Homo sapiens: one gene and its partners. The protein of the gene in region 3 interacts with the protein of the main gene of each other region in a pairwise test. Each region holds a gene or a part of one and is shown on either strand. Other genes may lie near its edges. The genes, in order: ACP1, ATOSB, SFMBT1 and PSMA1.

Region 1 (4,568 bases), on a different chromosome or scaffold from region 3:
TTGGGAATTCGTGACTTCTGATTTACTGAGAGATCATGACACTGGCAAAAGGTCATAGAATATGAAAGCCATAAACAAATGAAAACTTGAAGCCTAAGAATTTCTCTAAGGGATAATTAGCATTTTTTTTAAAGTAAAGGCTACTATATATTGGTGACATAATTTCCTAAGATAGTCCCTGATTTGCTGGGAAATATTCCAAATAAGGTTGTATCCATTATTTCCCAAGCGATTTTGTAATCATGAAAATGCTTAACTAGGAGAAACCTTAAGACTTCTAAGCAGTCTCAGAATTTTAGATGTAGATGTATTTTAAACAAATCTAATTGGATCCAATTTAAAAAGCTGAATTCGGCAAAGCAATGAGTTTCTCCATTCATATGAGCCCTTGTCGGCAGATGGTATCGTCTGGGTGTAGCCATAAGGACAGAATAGTCAAGAGTCCTAGGATTTGTTTGAGGATCTGTATTTATAGAGATAAACATTAAAGAAAAACTATAGGATTTTATTTCCAAACATAAAGGAATAGAAGAGTAAGAAATTTTGACTTTGAGATTAAAAGCAATTACTGAATGAAGAGAACAGGGTGTAACTTTTGAAGTGCTCTTATTTAATCCTGTTTTCTAATTACAGCTCATTACTTGACCTTTCCTTCCCCATTTTTTATGTTTTAAGGATTTCATGTTCAAATATCCAATCTATTAATATTTAATCCCCTCAGTTTTCTGTATGTCTGAGTAATTCCAACAAGAGCAAGACTCACTGGGTTTGCAAACTTTCTTCCTATGAAGACAGCCTGGCACTTCCACATGGTACAGTGGGGAAACTACTCACTTTCATCTGGCAACAGCTTATCCTCCAGATACTAGGGAGTCAAGGATCAAACGTGTCTCCTCCCCATGGCACTGCCTGGGACCCTCATGATACTGAGGTCAGGAGTGCAGATGTCCTGGCCAGGCAGCTGTGCATCACTGCACAGGAGGGCACAGCGTAGAGGCAACATGTCCAGAGGATGGTACTGGGCAAGGACAGTTCCAGCTGTAGAACCTCAAACTTCCTTCAGAAACTAGACATGATGACATGGGGCAGCAATGTGCTTATTTTCATCATTTTACTTCCTTATCCTGAAGATAAAATATGCACACCTAACATCACAGATCATGTAAAAAGGACAATACAATGTTTTCAAATGCTTCCTTACCTGTCAATAAAAAAACAGGCAGACACCAGATTTATATCTCTAGTTGTATTTTTATAACTCCCCAGTTTATTTTGAAATATTCATGATTTTGACATTATCTCAAAATACACAGAAATTACCTTACATCTGCCTATACATTTATTAAATGCTGATGAAGAATACTTATTCAATATTTAAGCATGCCAAATAATAACACTTTTCCCAACTTTTAAAATTATTTTAAAAAATAAGCCAATTTATATTGGACATTTGGGTTACATGTGCATATAAAAACAGTCATATTCCTCAACTGACCATAGACTAGCATACAAGTGTCCTTCTTTCTGGATGTAATTAAGTTTCAGAGGCAAAGTGGTTCAGATGGGAGCCAATGGGCTGACCTCCTCATGAAGTAAACTCGACAAAAATCATGAAGTATTGAAGGTGCCAACGACTGATTCCATAAATGTTTCTCTCTTCCCTATCTTTTCAATATACAAGTGTGCACTATGGGTGTGTAGAAATTAAAACACTTCTAATCTAGACTGTGAGCTCCTACGGAGGGGACTACTGTCAATCCACAAAAGGCCCTAGGGAAGAGAGAGGTAGCACTGGGGAGCAGAGGGCACCTGCCCTCCAGGCCATCCACACAAACCTACTGAAGAGGTAGACTCGATTATCTAAGTCTCAACAGGCTTAGATGTTGACCTGGGCCTTCAAGTGAGGTTTTCCTTCATTGTTTTATGTTGCTTGTTCTACTATTTTTGTAACTGGGGCAAAGTGAGATGTTCAACTAGTCTAAGAATGCTTAAAATACCCCATAAGCTGTCTGAATCAAAGATTTTTATTGATTCTCCTGCCAAACACAACTGATTTCCATCTACAATTACTTTTTAAGGTAAGAAACAGTAAGTCAACTGAACAAAGAGCTGGGCTTTGGGCCCTGGAACGTGATTACACACCGACTGAGAAATGCAGGACCTCAGGGTGGGGTCTAGTCAGGCTGGCCGCAGCAGGGCACGAACCTGCCTCAGTGGGCCTTCTCCAAGAACGCTCTGCAGCACCTGACACACTGCTGGTACACCGTCTCAAAGTCAGAGTCATTCCCCTAAATGGACAGGAAAAAGAAGAAAATGGCAAAACCTGCATAACAAAAACATCCTTAACACAATCTCATCTGTTATTTAATATGGCAGGATACAAATGTGTTGGGTCTTCATATTAGCCCTAAAACGTGAACTGTACTTACATAATAGGGATCTTCAATAATAAGTTGTTTTTGTGGATCATAGCTCCCAAGTAGTTCAATTTTAGCTTTGCAGGTTTTAACTTGATTACTTTTTCTATTCAAATCTCTGTAAAATTGAAATATGAACTTAGTTTTCTGATCTATGGTTTCAAGTTAAACAGGGACATCTGCTAGGGTGTTCTGAAACATCCATATCAAAATCAAGACAGAATGACCTAATTTGAAATGAAACGGAACACTCAGCAGGCCCGTGTGGCCCCTTCTGCAGCTGTATGCCACTGCCCTCTCTCTAGGCAAGACAGTTTGCGACAGCAGCTTATTCTCACTGATTCTGTTACACAAAATATACAATAATTATATTTTCTCCCACAAAATACATTTTAAGACAATCAAGTTTCAGAGATAAAGGTCATAGAAAGGAACCCAAAACACCATCTGAACCAGTCCCAAAACAGAGGGCTACCAATTCCATCCTCAGGTGTCTTGACACAGCACTTCCCACAGCACGACCCACTCCTTAATTACTCTTCCATCTTTTATTCCTTAAGCCTCTGCCCAAGCTGAAAACTCAGCTTCACTCTAGACTTCCACCCTTAGCTTTCACATTGCTACAAAAGAAAAAGGCAAACTTAACTAAGCGCCTCCATTTATTTAACAAATTTCGACTGAGCACCTGCGACAGATGAGTTGATGAGTCAGGTACGTGCTTTATGTGGGAACGGAACAGCCAAGAGCTCCCATGCACGAAGTTTTACAGCTCAGGATTAGGTGCAGGAATGAGAACTGCAGGCAGGCCTAAGTCTAATGCACAATCTGGCCTAATGACAGGGCAGCAGAATACCTCTATCAAGAAATGAATTTAAGCTGACCCACGAGGGGCAAATAGGAGCCGAATGACCCAAGAAGCAAGGAGGAGCTTCCAGGCAGAGGAACAGCACGTGCAAATGTGAGGCTGCAGGAACTCCACTTGCCCCACACGCAAAGAAACACGGTGCTCAGTGCCAGTCAAAGCAAATGGGGTCTCCTAAAAAGGTGTTTTTACGATGCCTATGGGCTATGGTGTCAGCAAAAACAATGAGAACAGAATAAGGACTGAAAAATAAAAATTAAAAAATACATGCATTTTAATGAAGGTCCTAATTAATAAAAAATAATTGAAACTGGTGCATCCCTATCTGTTCATTTGTACAAAAGTAATTAAAAGCACAAATAGTTTATCTTCATCAAAAACATGAGATATTTATGAATAAGTAGTGATGCAAGTCAGAATCCTGGAGTGACATTAAATTATGATCCGTTCCCGATGACGCCTTGAACATGGGACTGGGGCAGGTCAGGAGGGTGGTGACTGAGGCAGGGGTGCATACAGCAGGGCCCTTCCTCACTGAGCCTAGGCTTAAATCCCATGACATCCACCACATGCTAGCTGTGTGAACTCGGGGACATAACCTAACATTACCGTTTCTCACTTCCTTCTTTTACAAGATGGGATAATAATAGGAACCTATGGTTGCAGAGCTTTGACCTGAGAATCAATAAAACACTGCCCTGCCCAGGAATCATTACAGCAAAAATATCAAAATCGTTCTCATGCAGAACAATATGCTTGATACAAAACTATAACAGCCAAGCTAGTTTTCCAATTAAATCATGCTATTAACAACTAGACTTTCCCTTTTCTAAGGTGTATTTCCTTGTAAATACCTAAGAGACAATTCTAGATTACTAAGTTTTTTGCTGTTCTAAATAAAATAATTCTACATATGGTGACCATCACTGACTATTAAAACCTTTAAAATAGAAAAAGTAAATCTGGACAACAAATTACTTGGCCCACTGCTGAACTGAGAGTTGAACAGAAATATTCTTCAAAAACAGGATTACCTCAGATTGCTTTCATCCATACATAGTATATAATCAAATGTGGCAAAATCTTCTTTGGTAATCTAAAATTGAATAAGAAGTCAAAACACAGTGTTTATACCATTCAAGCCTAGAGGATGCAAAGCAATACTAAAAGAAAAAAAAAACTGCTGTATTTGAGCCTGTTACTCACTAATAAACAATTAAATAATTTTTAGGGTACTTTTAAGTTAAAATAGAGTTAACCTATTTCTCAAAATTGTACTGCAAAGAAAT
Region 2 (7,775 bases), on a different chromosome or scaffold from region 3:
AGGGGTTGGTAAGAGAGAAGAAGTCGACCTTCCTACCCACAGTGGTGGTCCGTGGGAACAGCCCCCCTAGCTTGTGTGGATGTATGTAGGGACAAAATAGAGAGCAGCTGGCAGCAGTTCTCTTTGCATAGGATGAGGGTGGAAAGCACATGGATAGGAATTCATCCTGTCACTCTCCTTGATCATGGTAGAAATGGAAATCTTTAATACTGAAGGGAAGGGGAGAATGAGCCTTGAAGCTGATACCTATACCAATACCCACCTCACCCACCTCCCAGGCCTCAAAAGTGTCTAAAGGTACAGACGTATTCTGGGACTTGTTGTTTTTGCTGGCCTTGCTCCCTCAGCATGTTGGGAGCTGTAGTCCTTGCCAGCCACAGCCTGGCACAGCTGTTTGATGCCAGCTGCTGCCCACCCCCTGAACGAAGAGTGAGGCTTGGCCTACTCTGCCCTGCCCCCCTCCCCTGCAGTCCTGCCCCATGAGTCAGCTTGAAGCCATGGTCTAGAGCCAGACTGGCTGGGTGGCAGGGGAGTGAATATAGAGCGTCTTGTTGACAGGGTGGGAACTGAGAGGGCTCTGGGGTTAATAAGCAGATGCCAGGTATGCTGGGGTCAAGTAGGGCATCATGTCATCCCCTGGCTTCCCCAGGGCAAGGGGTCAAGAGGGCAACTGGGATGACCTGGAAGTGGTGGTGCTAGGGAAAAGGCCCCTCCTGAATCTGTATGGCTTGGGTGGAGGAAAGAAGGGTAGAAATTAGTGCAGGTTGTACCTTCTGACAAGGTTGGTTGCAGGTAGGATAGTGCAGGTTGCGATTGGTGTTCTGCCCTTTCCAGCCATCCCGCCCACCACAGGGAACCAGGATTTTCTTAGGGATCCCAATTCTTAGGAGAATTTGGTGAAATGGGATAGTGGGGTACAATGATGGGAACTTGGTGTAGGAGAGCTTTTCAGTCCCTGGGTACAAATCTCTCCTTTCTGCCTGCTCCCCACCCCCACCTCTGTTCCTGATTTTCCCTTGTACAATTAATCTCTCTGCTTCTCTCATCTGGGAAATTTTTCTCTCCACTCTCAGGACTGCTGCTCAGATGTCTGGGACTTGCATTCTACTTTTTTTGAGCCCTGCTGTGTGCTTACCCCTGTACTTGGGGTTGGATGGAGGGGTGGGACACAGATCTGTCCTCAGGAACTCTATGGTCGGTCTAGAAGATGCCTTACCCACAGGAGTGAGCAGAACTGTTAGTGAGCTTACAGGAAGTAGTAACACTGCCATAGGTGAGGTCTCAGAGAAGGGAGAGATGCTTATGGTCTGGGGTGGACAGAGCAGACTTTCTGGAGGAGATGGCATTTGACCTATCCAAGGAGGAAAAGTCTTGGGTAGGCATTCAAAGGGCACTTCTTGAAGGGGAAAGAGCACCGTGAATGTCAGACAGCAAAAGAGAAGGCTGACCCTGGGGGCAGCTGGCTTTCAACTTGACATTCCCCTCACCCTAGTATGGGCTGGAATAGTTAGTGAAGACCATCTTATGCACCCGTGGTTTGGGGTTTTGGTGTTGGGTGTGTGAGCACTGGGGGAGGGGCGTGGAGAGGTACTCCCTAGTTGCTTCCAGCTGACTGACTGCTGCGGCCTTATCTCTAGTTTGCAGGGCCTTGCGGGAGGGCCCTGGAAAGTGCCTTCTGGCAGTGACCCCTTCCCCTTCCCCTTCTTGTTTTTGGTCGGATTTGTTGCCTCTTGTTAAAGAGACAGGCTGCTGGAGGCAATTTGGAGTTCAGGGCTGAAAGGCCAGCTCTGAGCTGACTTGAAATTTGTACCTCTGAGGACCGCTGATGGGGTATAACTGTGTGGGAGACCTCTGCCCTTAGTGCCCTAGGATGGCACTTGTCCCTTTGGAGATAGACATATAAGAAGGAGTTGTGCAATTTGGTGGCTTTGAGTAAGAAAGCTGAATTCTTCCCCTGGCCGCCTCTCAGCTGACACGGTCTCTTGGATCTTGGGGGTCTCTCATCCCTTCCTCCATGTAGGGCAGGAGTCCTCAAATGGTGGCCCTGACAAGTAGTTATTCTACCTCAACTCACTTGTCACATCCTTATTATACTGAGCCAAGACCTGCCTCTTTGACTCCTTAGGTAGCCCAACTCTGCCATCTGTGCCCTGGACCCCAAGCCTACCCTTTCTGTTCCTGAAGAGCCTCTCACATGGGAGAAGGATGTCCTGGAGTGTACTATTAGCCTATAATTGGTGACAGGCCTTACCGCTGGCTCCAGTGATCCTGGCTTACGTCTGTTCTTCTCTCCTCAGGGTCCTGCTGAGCTCAGGAGCTGCACGGAATGGTGGCAGTCACCTTGCCAGTGCAGCAGGCATGGATCAGACTGCAAGCTAGGGGCACGAGGCATCAGTTGGGAAGAGGGGACGCACAGCTAGGCTTGAGGCCTCTTCATCGGGGTAAGTACCAGGGAGAAGAGGGGGAAGTGTGTCCAGTAAGAAGCCTGAGCTAAACCTGTCACCCTCTCAGGAGTTCTGAGAGTGGTCTCTATATTCCATTAGTCCATCCAGGGATTTGTACACATTCATCCTTGGGAACCCATCAAAGTCACCCCTTTAGGCAAGGAGAGGGTCTGAAACTCAGCTGGAAGGAAGAAGACTCATTGATTCCCCTGACCACCTTTTCTTCTCTTCTCTTACACAGATGTCCCCAGGCCCCCCAGCCCAGGCCCAGCATAAAGGCCGTGTTGGGGGGCCCCCCTGACCCAAGGGGGGCTTCATGCGCCACGTGCAGGCGGAGCCGTCTCCATCCTCAGAGCCGGAGGCTGGCCCTTCACAGCCTCCAGTCAGGCAGGGGGCCCTCCAGGGTGGCCTGCTCATGGGCTACAGCCCAGCAGGGGGGGCGACATCCCCCGGGGTCTACCAGGTATCCATCTTTTCCCCTCCGGCTGGTACCTCTGAGCCTCATAGGGCCCTGAAACGACAAGCCCCATCCACTGAGGGTCCCCGGGAGCTGAAGAGAGGCCCTGGGCTGGGGGCCAGAGAGGGACTACCCCCTGAAGAACCATCTACTGTGGGGCTCTTAGGCCCAGAGGGACCGGGGCTGGGACTAGGTGTGGCCAGCCAGCATTTCTCCCACCGTGGCCTCTGTGTTGTGGAACAGAGAAGTAGTGTCACCTCATCTTGGACTTCGGGGGCCTGGAGTCCCCCCTGCCCCCCATCAAATGCTTCCTGCAATACTTTGCACACCAGAGACTGGGCCTCCCCAGATCCAGGGGGACAGGGGTCCCTGGGGGAGTCCCCAGGGCCAGCCCCTCCAGGCCAGCTGCACACACTTGACACTGATTTGCACAGTCTTGCACAAATAGGGGGTAAGAGCCCAGTGGCTGGGGTGGGCAATGGGGGTAGCCTCTGGCCTAGGGAGTCCCCTGGCACTGCCAATGGGCACAGTCCCGAGCACACACCCCCTGGCCCTGGACCCCCAGGCCCCTGCCCCACCAAGCGAAGGCTGCTTCCTGCTGGAGAAGCCCCAGATGTCAGCTCTGAGGAAGAGGGGCCAGCCCCTCGGAGGCGCCGGGGATCCCTGGGCCACCCTACTGCTGCCAACAGTTCTGATGCCAAAGCCACACCCTTCTGGAGCCACCTGCTGCCTGGGCCCAAAGAGCCTGTTTTGGTAAGCCAATAAAGGACCTCATTTACTCTTTTTTTACTTTTTTTTTTTTTTTTTTTTTTTTGAGATGGGATCTCACTCCATCACTGCTGGAGTGCAGTGGCACAATCTCAGCTGACTGCAACCTCCTCCTCCCAGGCTCAAGGGATCCTCCAACCTCAGCCTCCCAAGTATCTGGGACCACAGGCACATGACATTGCACCCAGCTAATTTTTGGTATTTTTGGTAGAAATGGGGTTTCGCCATGTTGCCCAAGCTGGTCTCGAACTCCTGAGCTCAAATCATCGACCCACCTTGGCCTTCTAAAGTGTTGTGATTACAGGCGCTCAAGCCACTGCGCCTGTCCTTCATGTACTCTTAAGTGGATATTTGTGTGGGTAAAGGTGGAGGCCTGGGGGGCAGGGTGTTCCTTTGAGAGTTTGTGATGAGCTTCTGCCCCAAAACATACATGGCCTTCACCCTGTGTCTTTTCCCAATCATTTCTCTCCGTAGGACCCAACAGACTGCGGTCCCATGGGGCGGAGGCTGAAAGGAGCCCGTCGCCTGAAGCTGTAAGTGACCAGCTTTTTCCTCTACCCTGTCCCTGAGAATGGGGGCAGAAGTCTGTACTCTTTCCAGCATCCGAGTAGGGGACCCCAGGGCAGAAGCCCTACATAGTGGCAGAGGGTGGAGTCCAAGGGCATAAGCAGGAATCCCAGAATACCTCAAGCCAACCCCCTGTGTTTCCCTTCCTCTACCAGGAGCCCCCTTCGAAGCCTCCGGAAGGGGCCAGGCCTGCTGAGCCCCCCCAGTGCCTCCCCTGTTCCTACCCCTGCTGTCAGCCGTACCCTGCTGGGCAACTTTGAGGTAGCTCCCGTTGGGGTTTGTGATTGCCGGGGTCCTGGGAGAGGTGGGATGGTGGAATGTGGCTTGGATGGATAAGGAAAAGAATTGGCATCTCTCTCTTCATGTGTTTTCCCTACCCTAATCCCAGGAATCATTGCTGCGAGGACGTTTTGCACCATCTGGCCACATTGAGGGCTTCACAGCAGAAATTGGAGCTAGTGGGTCATACTGCCCCCAGCACGTCACGCTGCCTGTCACTGTCACATTCTTTGATGTTTCTGAGCAAAATGCCCCGGCTCCCTTCCTGGTATGCCTTGACTCCAACCCCAAAGTCAGCTCATCAAGAGGATGAGGATTTGGGGGCGGGGCCAGGGGGCAAGAGGTATTTCTTACTTATTCCTCACCTAGAAGTGAGTCAGGGCCAGGTGAGGAGAACTCTACTGTAGGGCAGGGGCAGGTTCAGGGTGAGAGCTTGTGGAGAGGGACATGTGTTTAGGGCCCAGGGTTTTCCTAGTCCCCACCTTGACTGATGGCTCCCTGGCCTTCCAGGGCATCGTGGATCTGAACCCCTTGGGGAGGAAGGGTTACAGCGTGCCCAAGGTGGGCACCGTCCAAGTGGTGAGTTTGCCCTGAGGGAGTGGGAGTGGGGAGAGAGGAAAGCAGCCCTCAGGCCCTACCAACCTTGACTGTCCTGTCCCTAGACCTTATTTAACCCCAACCAGACTGTGGTAAAGATGTTCCTTGTGACCTTTGACTTCTCGGACATGCCTGCTGCCCACATGACCTTCCTGCGCCATCGCCTCTTTTTGGTGCCTGTGGGTGAGGAGGGAAATGCTAACCCCACCCACCGCCTCCTCTGCTACTTGCTGCACCTCAGGTGAGGAGAGGGCCCAGGGATGGCTGGGGAGGCCCAGGTATCCCCTCCCTGAAGAGGATCTCTCCTTGCTTCGATACTGTCCGGATTCTTGCTTAGTTTATTTTTAAATTTTTATGTATGTATGTACATATATATGTATGTATTCATTTATTTTTAGAGATGGGGTCTCGCTATGTTGCTTAGGCTGGTCTCCAACTCCTGGGCTCAAGCAGTCCTCCCACCTGGGTCTCCCAAAGCACTGGAATTACAGGCATGAGCCACTGAACCCAGCCTGGATTCTTACGTTGATCACATTGTCCTCCTCCAGGTTCCGGAGCTCCCGCTCAGGCCGCTTAAGCCTGCATGGAGATATCCGCCTGCTTTTTTCCCGCCGGAGCCTGGAGCTGGACACAGGGCTCCCCTACGAACTGCAGGCTGTGACCGAGGCCCCTCATAATCCACGTTATTCACCTTTGCCCTGATTGCCAGCACTCTGAACCCATGCGGGCTAATGACCTGCCCATCCTGCTCCATCTTAGAGAACATATATGGAGAGACAGCAAGAGACCCTTCAGGCTTGAATTAAAGCCCTCACCATGCTCACGCCCAAATGGATTATTTGGGTGTTTAAAGCTTCTGATTCTTACTACACCCTGCCCTACTTCGGGTACTCCATGTGCCTGTCCCCTCCCTTGGGTTTCCCAGGCCAGCTTAGGTAGTAGGGAGGAACTGGAGCTACCCTGAGATTTTCTCAAGTTCCCAGGCAAGTTATGCCAGCGTTGCCTCCCTGTCCTGGGCAGGGGCCACTTGTTATTTTATTTATTTTTAATTTATAATTTATTCAAATTGGATTGCCTTGGTAACCTCCCACACCTGATAATTGGCATCACTCCTCCCCGCTTCCCACTCTCAGATATTGCTCCAACCTCAGGAGTTGAAGAGGCTTATGCGGTGGGGGCAGGAGGAGAACTGCTTTCCCTCAGCTGAGGGAAGAGGGGCTATTCCAGAGGGACTGAGTCAGTAGCCAAAGACTCAGCTTCCCCTGTCCTTCCCCAGTCCCTTCACTTCCCCTACCCTCTGACCTATCTCTGAAAGCCAAGTTATGCGTATGTGTGTGTGCACAAGCTTGTCTTTGTGTGGTATGTGTGTGTGAGTGTGCATGTATGCACACACACAGGGGTTAACCACCCCTCACCTAGGGCTCCAGACTCCAGTTGTCCCTCTCCTCCTACCTGTGTCTCCTTGTTTTGGGGTCCTGACTGAAGAAGGTGTCCAGGGGGCAGAGTCAGGGCCAAGCACTGGGGTGCCTCCTCTCACCTGGCCAGACTCTGACCCACCTACCTCAGCTGGGGTGAGGGGCACCCCTCAAACTCAGTCATGTGGTTCCAAACTACCCCATTCCCCACTCCAGACTCTGACCCAGCCTCAGTCCTAACTCCTGGGGCTGGGCTGAGGGGAACAAGCATTTGCTGAAACTTGAAAAAACAAAGCAAATCAAAAACAGGAAAAAATTGTACCTGGTACTTTTTTTTAGAAAAAAAGATTAAAAAAGAAAGAATAAATTCTTGTTTGGAAACTTGAACTAAGCTCTACTTTTGTTGTTGTTGTTGTTGTTGGGGAGAGGGTGTGAAGGGGGATGGAGGGCCTTCCTGGAGCTGGGACTCAGCCCTTTCTACCAGAGAGGCAACAGGCCTGGGCCCATGAGGTCTTAGGCTAGTCCCTGCTGATTCCTGGGGCCTGGTTTTTCTCCTTTCGGAGGGGTTGGTGGGTAAAGTTCAGCCGTAGAAGCTGAACTCTGAATTGTAGATCAGGATTCTAATACTGGTTCTATTAATGACTTTAGCCCCTCAGAACTTCAGTGCCCTCATATGTAAAATGGAGGTGACTACGGAGGTCTCTTGACTACCAGAGCATTAGGGATGTGGGCAAGGTGACATGCTCCAGACAAGGTTGAACGTTGAGGCTGTTTGCTGGACTGTATTTAAGACCGGGCATAACAAACCTTGCTTGGGAAGACAGGGAAGGAGCTGCAGTGTCTTTGAGGAAAGAGGGGAGGGGAAAATCTCGGCCCAATCGCCAGGCAATATTAGGCCCAGTTTCCATGGCAACGGGATTGGGGTCAGTCCCCAGTGGGAGTCCTGGGCACAACACAGCGGGACTACCAGAGAATATCACTATGGCAACCATGGCAACGAGTCAGCTCCAATCCACTAGTCGCTATGGTGACAGATGGGGGCGATACTACGCTCTGGTGGGCAAACTGAGTCTCGGGTGAGGACGAATAATTCAGTGCGTGGTGTCTGAGTGATAATGCCCGCGAAAAATAGCCTCCATTTTGGCCATCAGGCCGGGGATCTTCGGCGTGAACAGCTAAACCCAGAACAACCACAGCCTTCGCCCTTCTCTAGAAGGTCTGCGTTTCCCAGGGAACAACTTGACGCGC
Region 3 (7,775 bases):
ACCTGAGGTCAGGAGTTCAAGACCAGCCTGGCCAACATAGTGAAACCCTGTCTCTACTCAAAATACAAAAATTAGCCAGGTGTCGTGGTGTGTGCCTGTAATCCCAGCTACTTGGGAGGCTGAGGCAGGAGAATCTCTTGACCTGGGAGGCGGAGGTTGCAGTGAGCTGAGATCATGCCACTGCACTTCATCCAGCCTGGGTGACAGAGCGAGACTCTATCTCAAAAACAAAAAGGAAATAAGAAATTTAAGACATAAAAATGCAAGAACAATTTTTGTTATTAGATGTAAGAGACATAAAATTACTTTTTCAAATTACTGTGAAAGGTTATAAACAGGTACTCTTGCTTTCTGATCTTGTCATGGATGGATGGCAGGCAATTGGCAGGTCATACTGGTCCTTGGATAACAGTCTGAGGATCACTGCCAAGGGTAAAGAAAGACTTAGTGAAAAGTCACTTTTCTTTTTAGAGCAGTTAGTGAAATTACTATTTGAAAACCTTAACTTAGGAACAGAAAGCAGGAGCTTAATTTTGCTAATTTAAATAACTCAGCTTTTAGTTGTCATAGCTTACCAGATTTAATTTGATTTAAGTTCAATATGCAGAACTTCCTTGTTGTTTTCAGGGCCCTTGAACTATAAAGGACATAGAATATTCCAAGAAGCAAAAATATTTTTTAGGTGTATTAATATGTTTGATTTTTCTCTGGGTAATCATTAGCCCAATATATTTGGCATCTGATGTCTTCCAATGGCAGATATAAAGGAAAGAGTTATCGGGCTACTGTTGAGATAGTGAAAACAGCAGATCGGGTGACTGAATTCTGCCGGCAAACCTGTATCAAACTGGAATGCTGTCCTAACCTCTTCGGTCCACGGATGGTTCTGGATAAGTGTTCTGAGAACTGTTCTGTACTTACAAAGACCAAATACAGTGAGTCATGTTTTTCCAATGTGTTAACCATAGCAGCTGACCATACCTTACATCTTGGAAAGTTTTTTACTTTACAGACATTCATATATAGCAGAGGCACACGAACTTCTTCTGTAAAGGGCCAGATGATAAATATTTCATGTTGTGGGTCATATGCTTTCTGTCACATATTCTTTTTCTATGTGTTGTGTTTTCATTTTTTAAGAACCCTTTTGGCCGGGTGTGGTGGCTCATGCCTGTAATCCCAGCACTTTGGGAGGCCGAGGCAGGCGGATCACTTGAGGTCAGGAGTTCGAGACCAGTCTGGCCAACATGGTGAAACCCCGTCTCTACTAAAAATAGAAAAACTAGCTGGGTGTGGTGGCACCTGCCCGTAATCCCAGCTGCTTGGGAGGCTGAGGCAGGAGAATCACTTGAAAGCGGGAGATGAAGGTTGCAGTGAGCTGAGATTGCGCCACTGCACTCCAGCCTGGGTGACAAAACGAGACTCTGTGTCTCCAAAAAAAAAGAACCCTTTAAAAAATGTAAGGGTAATTTTTGGCTTGGGGGCTATACCAAAACAGGTCATGGGCCAGACTTGACTCATGGGCTTTAGTGTGCCAACTTTTATATATAGCATGTATATAAATTAGTTATTGTATCTAATAGGATATGTAATTCATTCATACAATCTGCAAGTATATATTTTGTGCTCATTGTGTGCTTATGCTGCTCTAGCACTGGGATACAACAATAAAGAAAACAAATTCCTATCCTCAGTGAGTTTACCTTTAATGTGGGAGACAGATAACAAACAAGGGAAGAAATTTAGAGAGGGGTCAGTATTTAGAGAAATACTGTGGGGAACAGTGAAGCAAGGTGGGCAAGCAAAATAGGACAGTGAGGAAGGCTGGGAGGTGGGGTGCTGTTTATGCAAGGGGTCAGGGAAGTCTTTCTGACAGGTAACACCTTGAAGGAAACAGGAGCCAGCTGTGCAGAGAGCTGGGTGGGAGTGTTCTGGGGAGGGGGCATCAAGGGCACAGGCTTGAGGCAGAAGCTTGCTTAGTGTCTCTGAAGAGCAGCAATGAAGCCACACTAGTTGGGGAGGTGGAAATAGGAGAGGAGGTAGTTGCAACCTCACCTTGAACTGTCATAGCACCTATTCGCTGTCCTTGCTTATCTTCTTTGAGAAACTGGGGCAGGGGTCACATAGGATGAAATTTACAATTTGGAGCCTTGTCAAGGCATTGCCACCCAAAGACAAAATTCTGATCCTACCTTTCCTTAAATCCTACAAGCCCTATGTCACTTGGGAGAATCACTACAGAGGAGGATTTTTACCTTGTTAAAATGGAAAGATTTCTTTTAGGGATCTGTGCCTCTTAAACTATAGTGCATGCAGATCACTGAAGGATCTTGTTAAAATGGAGCTTCTGATGTATCAGGTCTGTGGGTATCTGGGTCCTGAGTATCTATCTGCATTTCCAACAAGTTCCCAGATGCCACTGATGCTATTGATCCAAGGTCCATACTTAGTATGACGAGCTTTCTAATCAGTATTTAAATTACAAAATCTTATAAGTCTAACCTTCTAGTTTCTATTTATATTTATTGGATTGTAAACTCCTTAAGAGTAGGAATTATCTTAGCTTCTTGTATCAGACTCAGCACTTAGTTTAGGAAACTGCAATTATTAGGAGCTGAGTGAAAAATACTATTCATGTAAATGCATATATAAGCACACTACTCTGAAGGAAGATATGTGAGGGGAAGATATGTGGATTTTATTGTGCCTTTTGTCTGAATTTATCTTTCACAATAATATAGTTGAAATTAGCCTAGAATTTAGAAGGACAGTTATAATTTTTCCCAGTTAGTAATTTGAATGATGTCAAATGGATTCGTATCCTTTAGAAAATTTCCATTTTTTTCACAAAATTGTATTATATTTTGATATTACTTTAATACATAACTCAGCTAGAATATGTATGTTTCATTTCTGGAATGTATATTCTAAAATTTATATGAAAATGCAGAGGATCTAGAATAGCTGAAACAATTTGGAAAAAAGAATAAAGTTGGAAGACTTAGTCTCTCTCTTTTTTTAACCATAAAGTTATAATAATCAAGAGTGTGGCATTAAAGAATAGTCAAGCCGGGTGCGGTGGCTCACACCTGTAGTCCCAGCACTTTGGGAGGCCGAGGCAGGCAGATCACCTGAGGTCAGGAGTTCAAGACCAGCCTGACCAACATGGTGAAACCCCGTCTCTAGTGAAAATACACAAATTAGCTGGGCGTGTGGTGGCAGACGCCTGTAGTCCCAGCTACTCAGGAGGCTGAGGCAGGAGAATCACATGAACCCAGGCGGTGGAGGTTGCAGTGAGCCAAGATCACGCCACTGCACTCCAGCCTGGGTGACAGACTCTGTCTCAAAAAAATAGAACAATGGGACAGACCACAGGGTCCAGAAATAGAGCCAAACTTAACATGGTTAAATGATTTTCAACAAGAGAGATGAAGAAATTTAAGGGAGAAAGGAAATTCTTTTTAACAAATAGCACTGGTACAACCAGATATCCAAATAGAAAAGAAACATATAATAAAACACACGACTCAAAAACATTATGCCTAGTAGAAGAAGTCACACATGGCTGCTGGACGTGGTGGCTCATGCCTGTAATCCCAGCACTTTGGGAGGCCAAGGCGGGCAGATCATGAGGTCAAGAGATTGAAACCATCCTGGCCAACATGGTGAAACCCCGTCTCTACTAAAAGTATAAAAATTAGCCGGGCATGGTGGTGTGTGCCTGTAATCCCAGCTACTCAGGAGGCTGAGGCAGATGAATTGCTTGAACCTGGGAGGCAGAGGTTGCAGTGAGCCGAGATCGTGCCACTCCACTCCAGCCTGGCGACAGAGCAAGACTCCATCTCAAAAAAAAAAAAAAAAAAAAGTCACACACAAAAAAGTGCTTACTGTGTGGTTCCATAGAGGCAAAGCTAATCTATAGTGATAGTGTTTAGAATAGTGGCTGCTTCTAGTAAGGGGTACTGACTGGGAAGGGACCATGGGAGCTTTCTGGGTTGAAGATGTTCTATATACTTTGATATGGAGGGATCATTCAGTACTAGTCAAACCGTGCACTTCAGATCTGTTTATTCCACTCTATGGAATTTAAACCCCAATCAAATACAATGTACCTGTTTTTTGCTATGCTAATAAAATCTCTTGTGGTTTTGAGGTACACAAAAATAATGAAGCTACTTCATTTTTCTTTGTCATCCACATTTAGCACACTATTACGGAAAGAAGAAAAATAAAAGAATTGGGAGGCCACCTGGTGGGCATAGTAACTTAGCTTGTGCCCTGAAAAAAGCCAGTAAGAGGAGAAAGAGGCGGAAAAATGTTTTTGTTCATAAGAAGAAACGCTCCTCTGCATCTGTTGATAATACCCCAGCGGGCTCTCCCCAGGTATGAGATCTGTGATGTGCCTGTAATGTCTTGAAGCCAAGTGACCACTGCTTTATAGTATGGACACAGAATACCTGCAGGTCTTTCTAACTCAGATCTCTGGCCAATAGAAGATGGTTTTGTGGCCCAAGAACTGGTTTGTCCTGAATTTCTTTTCTTTCTTTATTATTTTTTTTTAATCATATGAAACCTGGGATTGATGTCCTGAATTTCAATGAGACTTCTCTCCTTTTCCTGCAGGGAAGTGGGGGTGAAGATGAGGATGACCCAGATGAAGGGGATGATGATTCCCTAAGTGAAGGCAGTACATCCGAGCAGCAGGATGAGCTACAGGAAGAATCAGAAATGTCAGAAAAAAAGTCATGCTCCTCTTCTCCCACCCAAAGTGAGATATCCACATCGCTGCCTCCAGATAGACAAAGGAGAAAAAGGGAGCTTCGCACCTTTTCATTTTCTGACGATGAAAATAAACCTCCTTCACCAAAGGTACCATTTAAAAAATAGTTTCTTTTTTCTTTCTTTCTCTCTGGAATTTCCATCTGGAATATGATTATTAGTGATATTGACATTCTACTTCTTTCAATACAGACTTATGTAGAATTTCCAGGGTCTCTTGTAAAGTGACCCCAAATGCAGTGATTTACATGTGTTTCAAGGATTAGTTGAGATCATCTACTTATAGGGGGAAAGTCTCTCTCAGAGTAGCTGCTTGTTTTAACAACAACAACAAAAAAAGCCCCATTGCTAGCTTATTTGTAGCTTGTCATTTATTTTTGGGAAAACTGCCTTTTTAATATGTTTCATAATATATATGGTTTTGTAGAAAAAAGTTATCCTTTTGATTCTGGTTAAGCCATTTGGCTTAATATATTATTTACTATATACATATGAACATTTTATAACATATGTATAACACTAAAGAACAATTTAGTGTTCAAAAACTAGATTGCTTTTTAAGAATATTCCATGAACAGAAGCAGTAAAGATTCCTCCTGGTAGTTTAGTTAAGCCTTCTCTCAATGGAATTATCATCCCCTTCTCTTCAGCACCCTGTTTTTCTTAGTTAAATTGTCTAAATTATCTGTGCTGGAACTTTGAGATAAATTCTTTCCCATTGATACTTCGTATTATAAAAGACAGACATTTCCTGAGTACCTGATGCACGTGGGTCTTTGCCATCTTTGCTGGGAGAAATCATGTCCTAAGACCACTTTAAATCATGTCTTGAAAGATTATGAATTTAGGTAGAGAGACTTTTTTAGAATAAAATAGCCGTAACACCATTTGGTTTGATTGTGTTGTGGGGAATGAAGGAAATAAGGATCGAAGTTGCTGAAAGGCTTCACCTGGACAGTAACCCCTTGAAGTGGAGTGTGGCAGACGTTGTGCGGTTCATCAGATCCACTGACTGTGCTCCATTAGCAAGAATATTCCTAGACCAGGTAATCACAGATACCTATAATTTTTAGTAATGTCTCTTTAGCAATAAATTATGGATGTAATAGTCAACAATTTATTTACAAGTTTTAGGAAAAATGTTTTGATCCAAAAGACAAGAATTGTCTTAATTCCATTTTTAGGAGTCAAAGATGATAAAAAGTTATTTATCAGACTTGCTTCATAGTTGAAGGAGATTATCATTGCATTCCAGTTTTTCCTAAGAATTTGATTCCATCCCTCCAATATCAAGCATACCATGCTTAATTGTCCACATCTTTTCAAAAATAATGATTTGCTTGTTTAAAAAAAAATAGCATCTGTCACATTAGGCTCTAGAGTGGTGATAAGTTTTAAGGCAAGCTTGCTGAAACACAGTCAGTGGCCTTAAACATTGAAATAAGTTTTGTTTAGAAAATTAGGGAGATTCAAGAGCTTATCGGGTTTTTATGAATGTTACAGAGTAGGAAAACATTGAAGTTGATAGTTAATCCTTTGTTTCAGATTTAGAAGGAACCCTCTAAAAAGATGGCACAATTAGTTGCCAGTTACAGGGCTAGTCAGTTTACTAAATTTCTATGGGACAGAGACTCTGGAATGGATTCTTATCCTTGGTAAAACTTTATTGTCCTCAGTAAAACTTTATTAATTCTGAAGCTTCATTAGTGTGGAAGACTATGGAGTCACTTAAAAGGAAGTGTGTGATACCTAAGACGAAAAAGTAAGGAAAGGAAAGCATAGGGATTCCAGTTTTGACAGAGCTAAAGTGAGGAGAGGCTGTCATGATCAAGCTGCCTTTCATGTGCACATCACAGATAATTTGTCTTTTATGCTTTAACAGGAAATTGATGGGCAGGCCCTGTTGCTCCTTACCCTTCCCACTGTTCAAGAATGCATGGACTTAAAATTGGGCCCTGCCATCAAACTTTGCCATCACATAGAGAGGATCAAGTTTGCTTTTTATGAGCAGTTTGCCAACTGAGAAGGACAACCAAAGTGAGCTGGATCTTTGAAGCACAAATGCAGCAAATCCTTCACCCTGCTTTATAAGTGGAGCTGGAATAGTCCTGGGGCTCTGGGGCCTGCAGGTATCAGCTTGCTCTCTTTGCACTTTCGGGGAAGGAGGACTCACAGTGAGGAAGCAAAAACTGTGCACAGAAGTGGATCACCTGCTGGTGGAAATGTGGACATCTCTTGTTCAGCAGATGGCAGTTTTTAAAAAATAAAGGTTGTGAGGAAAAGACTTATATAAGAAGAAAAGCATTTCCAGTGGTGTGGCCTGAAAACAAAGAATAACCTAGGCTGCTGGAAAGCACCCTTTTGGTTGTTTTCATTCTGTTCCCTCCCATTGTAGATTGAACTTTGTTCTCTGCTTTCTTTTTCTTGGAAAGAGAGGACTTAGCTTTAAGTCAGCACTGATTTGGGACTGTTCCTAAGGCATATCAGTGCTTCATTGTCATTGTGTTTTTAAACTTTTTAAAATTAAAACAGTTCATTTTGGGGATGATTATGTGGCTCTAGGGTTTTGAATGTATAGTCACACTTTGATCATTTTAAAATCGATTCTTAGGAGTTCCTTTGTTTACTACCTCTGTTGATAATTGAGCTTACAGCCATGTATGAGGTTTTTTGTATGATGCCATTTTTAAGCTACATAAACACTAAAATTATGACAGAATTTGGAGGGGGGGAAACTGTTTGCTTTCTTAAAAACATTATATGGGGCACTTACACCAGTTCCTTAACTGACCTGATCTGAGAACTCTACTGTTACTGTTCTCCATCTTGACCCAGCCGAGGCTGCCTGTGTTAAGTAACATCACCAAGACTGTTAGTATTTCTGTTTAATTGCCCTCTTCCTATTCATTCTCAGAGGGACTTCAGTGACTTTTATTTTGTGTTTACTTTTCTCTAGAGTTGTTTGTCTACCTCTGTTTCATTTCTAAGGTCTTTAC
Region 4 (7,775 bases), on a different chromosome or scaffold from region 3:
GACCCAGATACCAACACAACGATATGGCCGGAGACCATATGGTGTTGGTCTCCTTATTGCTGGTTATGATGTAAGTTCATTGAATATTGTTATATGTTAATGATTTTTTTTAATTAACTAGAAATTTTTATAATTTTTAGTTCAACCAAAGTAAATAATTATGTGGTGTATTTATTTCTATTTGTAGGATATGGGCCCTCACATTTTCCAAACCTGTCCATCTGCTAACTATTTTGACTGCAGAGCCATGTCCATTGGAGCCCGTTCCCAATCAGCTCGTACTTACTTGGAGAGACATATGTCTGAATTTATGGAGTGTAAGTGACAGCCTTGCTTTTTTTTTTTTTTTTTTTTGCCTTTTCCAGTCTATATAGTAAATAAACATAGTATCCTAAATGCATAAAACTGTAAGTCTTATAGAAAGAATTTTTTTAAAAAAAATTATGCCCATGAAGAGTTTATTGTTTCTGTCACATATACTAATCTTAACTTCTGGTTACCACAGTAGTTTCAAGCACGAGTAGAACTTTTTCAAAATATAAATGTGTTCCCAACCTTGAAAATTCTTGATTCATTTGGTCAGAAGTGTGCCCTGTGGAGTGGAGAGTGGAGAACCACTGTACTACCTGCCAGTTGTAAGCTCTGTTCACTTTTAGTTTTCTGTGAGTCTTTTGTTATTTTAAGCCACACAGACATTTCTGCATTAGTAGTCCATAAACAAGAAATAAAAAGGCAGTGTAGTTGAGGGAGAAGAAGGTAAAAGAGGTAAGATGTTATGACAGGACAGGTTTTCAAGTGCTTTGCTTTGCATTGGAAGGAGGGTATCGGGTTTTACATTTCTCTTTGTCATCTTATCTGTTTTCTGGTGACAAAGCATTCTTTGGAGGAAATATTTGGGGTTTAGTGAATGCAGAGAAAAATAGTTTAATTGACATTACTCAAAGCAAACTTGTGGGATGACAATAGGTTTAACTTTGGGAAAAGAGGATTCCTTGGACAAATAAGCTTGGTAAATGCTGGCTTAAAGTTTAACATTGTAAATTATGGTAAATGGTTTGGGGTCCCCAAGGTTACCCCTAAATTTGGAGATATGCTAGGACTTAAAGCGCACAGCATATAGTTGTACTCCCAGGTAAGACTTTTAACAATAAAATAACAGTACATAGGTGGATCATTAAGGAAAAATACAGTCCAGAGGAATCTATGTGCAGGCTTCCTTATGCTCTTTCCTTCCCATAAGGAGTCACAGAGTACACTTGCAGCAATATGTATGTGATGTTTCTGCCCAGAGAAGCTCATTAGAAACTCAGTGTCCAAAGTTTGGTTCAGAACTGCTCATATCAGCACCCTCTGCCTAGCACATTTCAACCTGGATAGGAAATTCCTAAAGATTGCAATAAATCTATAGATAATTTTGGGGAGTACTGCTACTTTGATGATACAAAGCATCTGATCCATGAACATGGAATATCTTCATTTATTTAGGTATTTAATTCTTTTTTTTTTTTTCCTGAGACGGGGTTTCACTGTTTTTGCCCAGGCTGGAGTGCAATGGCGCGATCTCGGCTTATTGCAACCTCTGCCTCCCAGGTTCAAGCAATTCTCCTGCCTCAGCCTCCTGAGTAGCTGGGATTGCAGGCATGCGCCACCACGCCTGGCTAATTTTGTATTTTTAGTAGAGACGGGGTTTCTCCATGTTGGTCAGGCTGGTCTCAAACTCCCGACCTCAGGCGATCCGCCCAACTGGGCCTCCCAAAGTGCTGGGATTACAGGCGTGAGCCACCACACCCAACCAGGTATTTAATTCTTTCACTGATGTTTTGTAGTTTTCAGTGTACAAATCATATTTGTCTTAAAGTATTTTATTATTTTTGGTGCTGTTGTGAACAGAATTGTTTTCTTAATTTCATTGCATATTATTCATTGCAACTATATAGAAATACAGTTGATTTTTATATATCAATCTTATATCCTGCAATCTTGCTGAACTTGTTTATTAGTTCTAGTCATTTTTTTATAGATTCCTAAGATCATGTTGTCTGGGAATAGAGATAGTTTTACTTTCTCCTTTCTAACTGCCGTGGCTGGAACCTCTGGTACAATGATGAATATAAGTTGCATGAACAAACCTTCTTTTTTTTGTTCCTAAACTTAAGGGAAAAGGTTTTAGTCATTCACTGCTAAGATTGATGTTACCTGTCAGCTTTTTGTAGATGCCCTCTATCAGACTGAAGAGGTTCCTTTCAATTACTAGTTTGTTTTGTGTTTTTATTATGCAAACATTTTAGGTTTTATCACGTGCTTTTTATGCATCTCTTGGGGTGGTTATGCAGGTTTTCTCCCTTCCTTCAGTGTAACTGAAAATTACACTGACTTTCAGTTGTTAAACTAACTTATTCTTGGGATAAATCTCACTTGTATATGGTATATAATTTTTTTAATGTGTTGCCAGGTTCCGTTTGTAGTTTTTGTTGAGGGTTTTGTTTTGTTTTGTTTTGTTTTTGCATCTATATTGGGTCTGTAGTTTTATTTTCTTGTGATGTTTTTATTCTTGTTATCGGTAATACTGGCCACATAGAATAAGTTGGAGATTCCTTTTTACAATGAGCAAATATAAGGACTAGGATTCTACAGAACACATTCTACAAAACTTGGAGTTGTATAATTTATAGTCGGGATTTTGATTTGACCTAGCAAAAGAGAAGATCAAAATCGTAACAAAAATCATGAGTCCTCTCATTAAATAAAATAAGAATCAGCAATGTCATAGAATGCTATTAAAAGATTATATGACTAGCATTAAACTTGGCTGTTTTTACTGTGATAAATTTAGTGTGTAACTAAAAACCACAATTTGAGACTGTAGATTTGATAAATAACAGAAGCCTAGCATAACAATGAAATTAAGAAATAATTGTTAATTTATTACATATAGGTAATTTAAATGAACTAGTTAAACATGGTCTGCGTGCCTTAAGAGAGACGCTTCCTGCAGAACAGGACCTGACTACAAAGGTAAGTATTGTCTTTTCCAATTGTAGATATTAACGTTACAGTTTAAACCTTTATTGCATAAATGTAATGGAGTATATATGCAACATTCTGTAATTTGGGATATGATTGTCTTGGCAGATTCTTTTCCTTTAAGCTATTTGCTAAGTAATCCAATTTTATTTTTTAAACATTTCTTTTTGGTACAAAGCAGTAAAACCAGTAAATTTCATGCAAAATGTCCTTCATTATTTTCAGCAGATTGGCATATCTTGGTATTATTTAGTTAACAAAAATATATATATATTGAGCACCTACCATGTGCAGGCACTTTCTAAGCATTGAAAATACAGTAAACACAACAAATAACTTTTTCTTCATGGAACGTACATCCTAGTAGGGAAAGATAGACAGTATATACATAAGTACATTATATAGTATATTAGAAGAAGATAAATGCTATGTAAAAAATAAAAAAGCGTTAAAAGGAGAAAGAATGACCAATTGGATGTAGGTAGGTGTAATTTAAAATAGGTGGTTGAGGATATTCTCACCAAGAAAATGAAATTTGAGGAAAAGATATAAAGGAGGTAAGTGAGTATGAGCTATGCAGATCTAGAGCAAAATTATTCTAGGAAATACAAATGCAAAGGCCCTAGTATTTAAGGCAAGGAGGCCAGTAGTGTTGAGGTCAATCATCGAGAGGAAGAGGAAAAGGGAAGAAATCAGAGAGGTAATGGAGGTCCCATAAGCCATTGTGGTTACTCTGCATTTTACTCTGGGTGGGCTGTTAAGAGTTTGAGCAGAGGAATACCATGATTTGGTTTAGGTTTTAAAACAGTCACTCTGTTTGGCATTTTAACGACAGATTGAGGCTGGGCGCGGTGGCTCACGCCTGTAATCCCAGCACTTTGGGAGACCAAGGCAGGTGGATCACGAGGTCAGGAGATCAAGACTATCCTGGCTAACACGGTGAAACCCCATCTCTACTAAAAATACAAAAAATTAGCCGGGCTTGGTGGCAGGCGCCTGTAGTCCCAGCTACTCGGGAGGCTGAGGCAGGAGAATGGCGTGAACCTGGGAGGTGGAGCTTGCAGTGAGCTGAGATTGCGCCACTGCACTCCAGCCTGTCCAGCCTGGGCGACAGAGCGAGACTCCGTCTCAAAAAAAAAAAAAAAAAAACAACCGGTTTGTGGGCCAGCCGCAGTGGCTCACGCCTGTAATCCCAACACTTTGGGAGGCTGAGGTGAGTGGATCACTTGAGATCAGGAGTTCGAGACCAGCCTGGCCAACACGATGAAACCCTGTCTCTATTAAAAATACAAAAATCAGCCGGGCGTGGCGGTGCATGCACTCCAGCCTGGGTGACAAAGCAAAACTCCATCTCAAAAAAAAAAAAAACAGATTGTAGGGGTAGATAGATAGTGGGGCTATGGGTAGAAATAGTTTTAAGGCTATTCAGGTAATTATGTGAGAGATGATAGTGATTGCAGCAGAGTGACAGAGTTAAAGATGAAGAGTAGTGGTTCAATTTTGGATATCTTTTGAAATTACAGCCAAAAAAGTTTGCTAATAGATTTGTTATAGGGTGTGAGGGGGGAATGTCTCCAAGGTTTTGGGCCTAATTAATTGGAATGAAAGATTTATGATTTACTGAGGTGAAGAAGATAGTGGGAGGAACAGGTTTTAGAGTAGGCGTTGGGGAGGAAGGTCAGGCAGTCAGTTGCGGACATGTAAAATTTGAAATGCCTTTTTGTCTAATTGACGGTACAGAGTAAGCAGTTATAAGCAACACGTGGAGTTCCATGGAGAGTGGTCCAACCTACATTTCAAATTTTTGAAGTCTTTATATAGAAATGGCATTTAGAGTCTGGACTGGAAGAGATTCCTAAAGGAATTGAATAGTTAGACAAGCATTGTGAGGACTGGACCAAGAACACTAACCTTTAGCAACTGGGAGATGAGTTAGGTGTTGGCAAAAAAGACTGAGAGAGGTGGTCAAAGAAGTAGGAGGAAAACTTGGAAAATGAGGCATCTTTGGAGGCAAACGAATAAACTTTCAAGGAGGAGGGGCAATGAAGTTGTCACTGAGGACCTGACAAAACAGGCTTAATGGAATAATAAGGCAAAAACCTGATAGTGGAATCAGGAGAGAATGGGAGACGAGGAATTGCAGATAGCTTTTTGGAGGATATTTCTGTTGACGGTCACTCTGTCACTCTGCTCCAATCGCTATCATCTCTCACATGAATTACCTGAATAGCCTTAAAACTATTTCTACCCATAGCCCCACTATCTATTTACCCCTACAATCTGGGTTTTTTTTTTTTTTTTGAGATGGAGTGGTGACTGGAAGAGGAGAGAAATAAATTGTTTTGTTTTTTAAGATGGAAGAAATTACATCACATTTGCTGCATGATTGTGAGAGTAATCCAAGTAAATTTAGGGAAGCATTTATGAGGAAAAATAATGAGAAAATTGTTAGAACAATGTCCTTTAATAGTACATAGGTGGAAGGGTTGGCCTTAGGAAGTTTTAATGGGAAAGGAGAGAATCTAGGGACATAGGTACAGGAAAGAGTGGATACAGTGGGAACTTGTGAAAGTTCTCTTCTAATTGCTTCTGTTTTCGCAGTAATATAGGAACAAGGTTTTCAGCTTCAAAGAGCTTGGAGAATGTTAGAAGTGTCTAAAAGAAGGGGAGCATGAATGATGTAGAAATGGGTATAGTGGGATCCAGGAACCACTAAGGCCTACTTGAAGTTAATGATCATTAATAAAGTGAGATTAGTCAGTTTTATAAAGCCATTTTGTTATGGTGATTGGATAATTATTGTTTAATATCAATGTGAAGACTTTATAGCCTGCATTATCTTTTTAAAAAAATGTTTCTAGATAACATAGATCTTTGGAGTTACTCATGATAATCAAAAGTTAGTATTAATATTAAATCTGCAAATGACAAGGGTCCACTAGTTTCCTTCTTTTTTCTCCTACACATAAGTGGTTTTTAAGGTTTTATTCAAATGCTATATAAATTCTTATTCTGCTTTTTTCACCCAATATTTTATCGTATGTATTTTTTCATCCAAATTCTCTTATTTTACTTTTACCATATTTTACCCTTCAGAATGTTTCCATTGGAATTGTTGGTAAAGACTTGGAGTTTACAATCTATGATGATGATGATGTGTCTCCATTCCTGGAAGGTCTTGAAGAAAGACCACAGAGAAAGGCACAGGTATATAATCATAACACAAGAGGCTTTAGTTCTATTGTAAGCTGCTGTTCTTACCACAACTGTGTCTGTAAATTTTCCATTTTGTCTTAAATATTGAAATGGGCCCATAATTCAAATGGCAACAGGAAAATTAAGAACTGAGTAAAGTTAAATATTGAAAGGGCAGTGATCTCCATAAACACAAAAAGGGGGCCGGGTGCGGTGGCTCATGCCTGTAATCCCAGCACTTTGGGAGGCCGAGGCGGGTGAATCACGAGGTCAACAGATGGAGACCATCCTGGCCAACATGGTGAAACCCCGTCTCTACTAAAAATACAAAAATTAGCTGGGCGTCATGGCATGCACCTGTAGTCCCAGCTACTCAGGAGGTGAGGCAGGAGAATCGCTTGAACCCGGGAGGCGGAGGTTGCAGTGAGCTGAGATCCTACCACTGCCCTCCAGCCTGGGCGACAGAGAGAGACTCTGTCTCAAAAAAAAAAAACAAACACAAAAAGGGAGAAGTGTTGATTATTTGGTTATCTATTGCTAGGTAATAAGCTACCCCAAAACTTAGGGGCTAGAACAACAAACACTACTTCTCACAATTTTGCGGCTGACTGGGGCTCACCTACATGGTTCTTTGCTGGTCTCACCTGGGATCTCTCAAACATTGCAGTCATTTGTGGGGTGCAACTGGAACACCCAAGATAACTTCAGTCACATGTCTTCTTTACTCACACCTTTTAGGTGTCTTAGAGGAGCATCTAGAAGGCAGAGACCTCTGCTAGGATGACTGAGCCTCTGTCCACGTAGTTTCAGGGCCGCTTCTTCAGCAGGGTCTCTCTAGCATATTGGCAACTCAGGGCTTGCAAAAGTCAGAAGTGAAAGCCGCCAGGCATTCTTAAGGCTGAGATGCAGGACTGGCACAACATCACTTGTACACATTCTGTTGGTTAAAGTGAGTCACTGGCCTGGCCCAGATTCTGTTTGAGCAGAGACTGGGAGAAATGCTCATTGGGGGCCAGCTTTGGACACTAAGATGGCTCTTCATAAAGAGAAAAGCATCAAGAAGTGAATCTCAGGTGAAATATGGGTCTTTTTGCTAGATGTTTAGAATATACATTTGCTATTTATAGATGCTTATTTGATAGCAGTGTAATTGAAAGTAAAAAAGAATCTAGTATGGAAATTTCTACAGCATGAGTTTTTTTAACTTGGAAAGGATATTGTTGGTACTATTTGGGGGATCAAGATTTGCAATATTTAAACTGTTTTTGGTAAAAACTAGCACTGTTGGGAAGAATGCTGTGGAATACCACAAACTAGTTTGGCAAAGGGGAAAAGAATGTCTAAAAAGTGCTGATTGTATTTTAAACATAGTAGTGATAATACAAGGAAAGCTTTTATTCCTGAGCAATGCAAAGTACGATAAAATGGTGGAATTGTTCAATGATATTTAGGTTTTCAGAAATGTGAAATTATATATACAGTTATCCTCGAACAGTGTGGGGTTTAGTGGTGCCAAACCCCAGCATGGTTGAAAATCCACATATAACTTTTGACTC

The links.
Region 1: the proteins of SFMBT1 (region 3) and ACP1 interact in a two-hybrid assay, tested with the Homo sapiens proteins (one large-scale study listed by BioGRID and IntAct).
Region 2: the proteins of SFMBT1 (region 3) and ATOSB interact in binary tests that used the Homo sapiens proteins (3 or more experiments, as listed by UniProt).
Region 4: the proteins of SFMBT1 (region 3) and PSMA1 interact in a two-hybrid assay, tested with the Homo sapiens proteins (one large-scale study listed by BioGRID and IntAct).

Annotation. Positions count from the first base shown.
Region 1 is NC_000002.12:274,947-279,514, reverse strand, and holds the end of ACP1 (low molecular weight phosphotyrosine protein phosphatase), read right to left. Parts: intron 4,376-4,568; coding exon 4,314-4,375; intron 2,536-4,313; coding exon 2,430-2,535; intron 2,289-2,429; coding exon 2,211-2,288; 3' UTR 1,232-2,210; downstream 1-1,231. UniProt on the Homo sapiens protein: Acts on tyrosine phosphorylated proteins, low-MW aryl phosphates and natural and synthetic acyl phosphates with differences in substrate specificity between isoform 1 and isoform 2.
Region 2 is NC_000009.12:35,103,260-35,111,034, reverse strand, and holds the end of ATOSB (atos homolog protein B), read left to right. Parts: exon of another isoform or gene 1-1,375; intron 1,376-1,404; exon of another isoform or gene 1,405-1,830; intron 1,831-2,297; 5' UTR 2,298-2,441; intron 2,442-2,685; 5' UTR 2,686-2,760; coding exon 2,761-3,654; intron 3,655-4,143; coding exon 4,144-4,202; intron 4,203-4,391; coding exon 4,392-4,497; intron 4,498-4,624; coding exon 4,625-4,783; intron 4,784-5,025; coding exon 5,026-5,094; intron 5,095-5,177; coding exon 5,178-5,353; intron 5,354-5,660; coding exon 5,661-5,814; 3' UTR 5,815-6,918; downstream 6,919-7,775. UniProt on the Homo sapiens protein: Transcription regulator that may syncronize transcriptional and translational programs.
Region 3 is NC_000003.12:52,904,163-52,911,937, reverse strand, and holds part of SFMBT1 (scm-like with four MBT domains protein 1), read left to right. Parts: intron 1-759; coding exon 760-935; intron 936-4,204; coding exon 4,205-4,383; intron 4,384-4,623; coding exon 4,624-4,869; intron 4,870-5,696; coding exon 5,697-5,825; intron 5,826-6,661; coding exon 6,662-6,802; 3' UTR 6,803-7,775. UniProt on the Homo sapiens protein: Histone-binding protein, which is part of various corepressor complexes. Mediates the recruitment of corepressor complexes to target genes, followed by chromatin compaction and repression of transcription.
Region 4 is NC_000011.10:14,506,112-14,513,886, reverse strand, and holds part of PSMA1 (proteasome subunit alpha type-1), read left to right. Parts: coding exon 1-70; intron 71-187; coding exon 188-317; intron 318-2,935; coding exon 2,936-3,015; intron 3,016-6,120; coding exon 6,121-6,231; intron 6,232-7,775. UniProt on the Homo sapiens protein: Component of the 20S core proteasome complex involved in the proteolytic degradation of most intracellular proteins. This complex plays numerous essential roles within the cell by associating with different regulatory particles.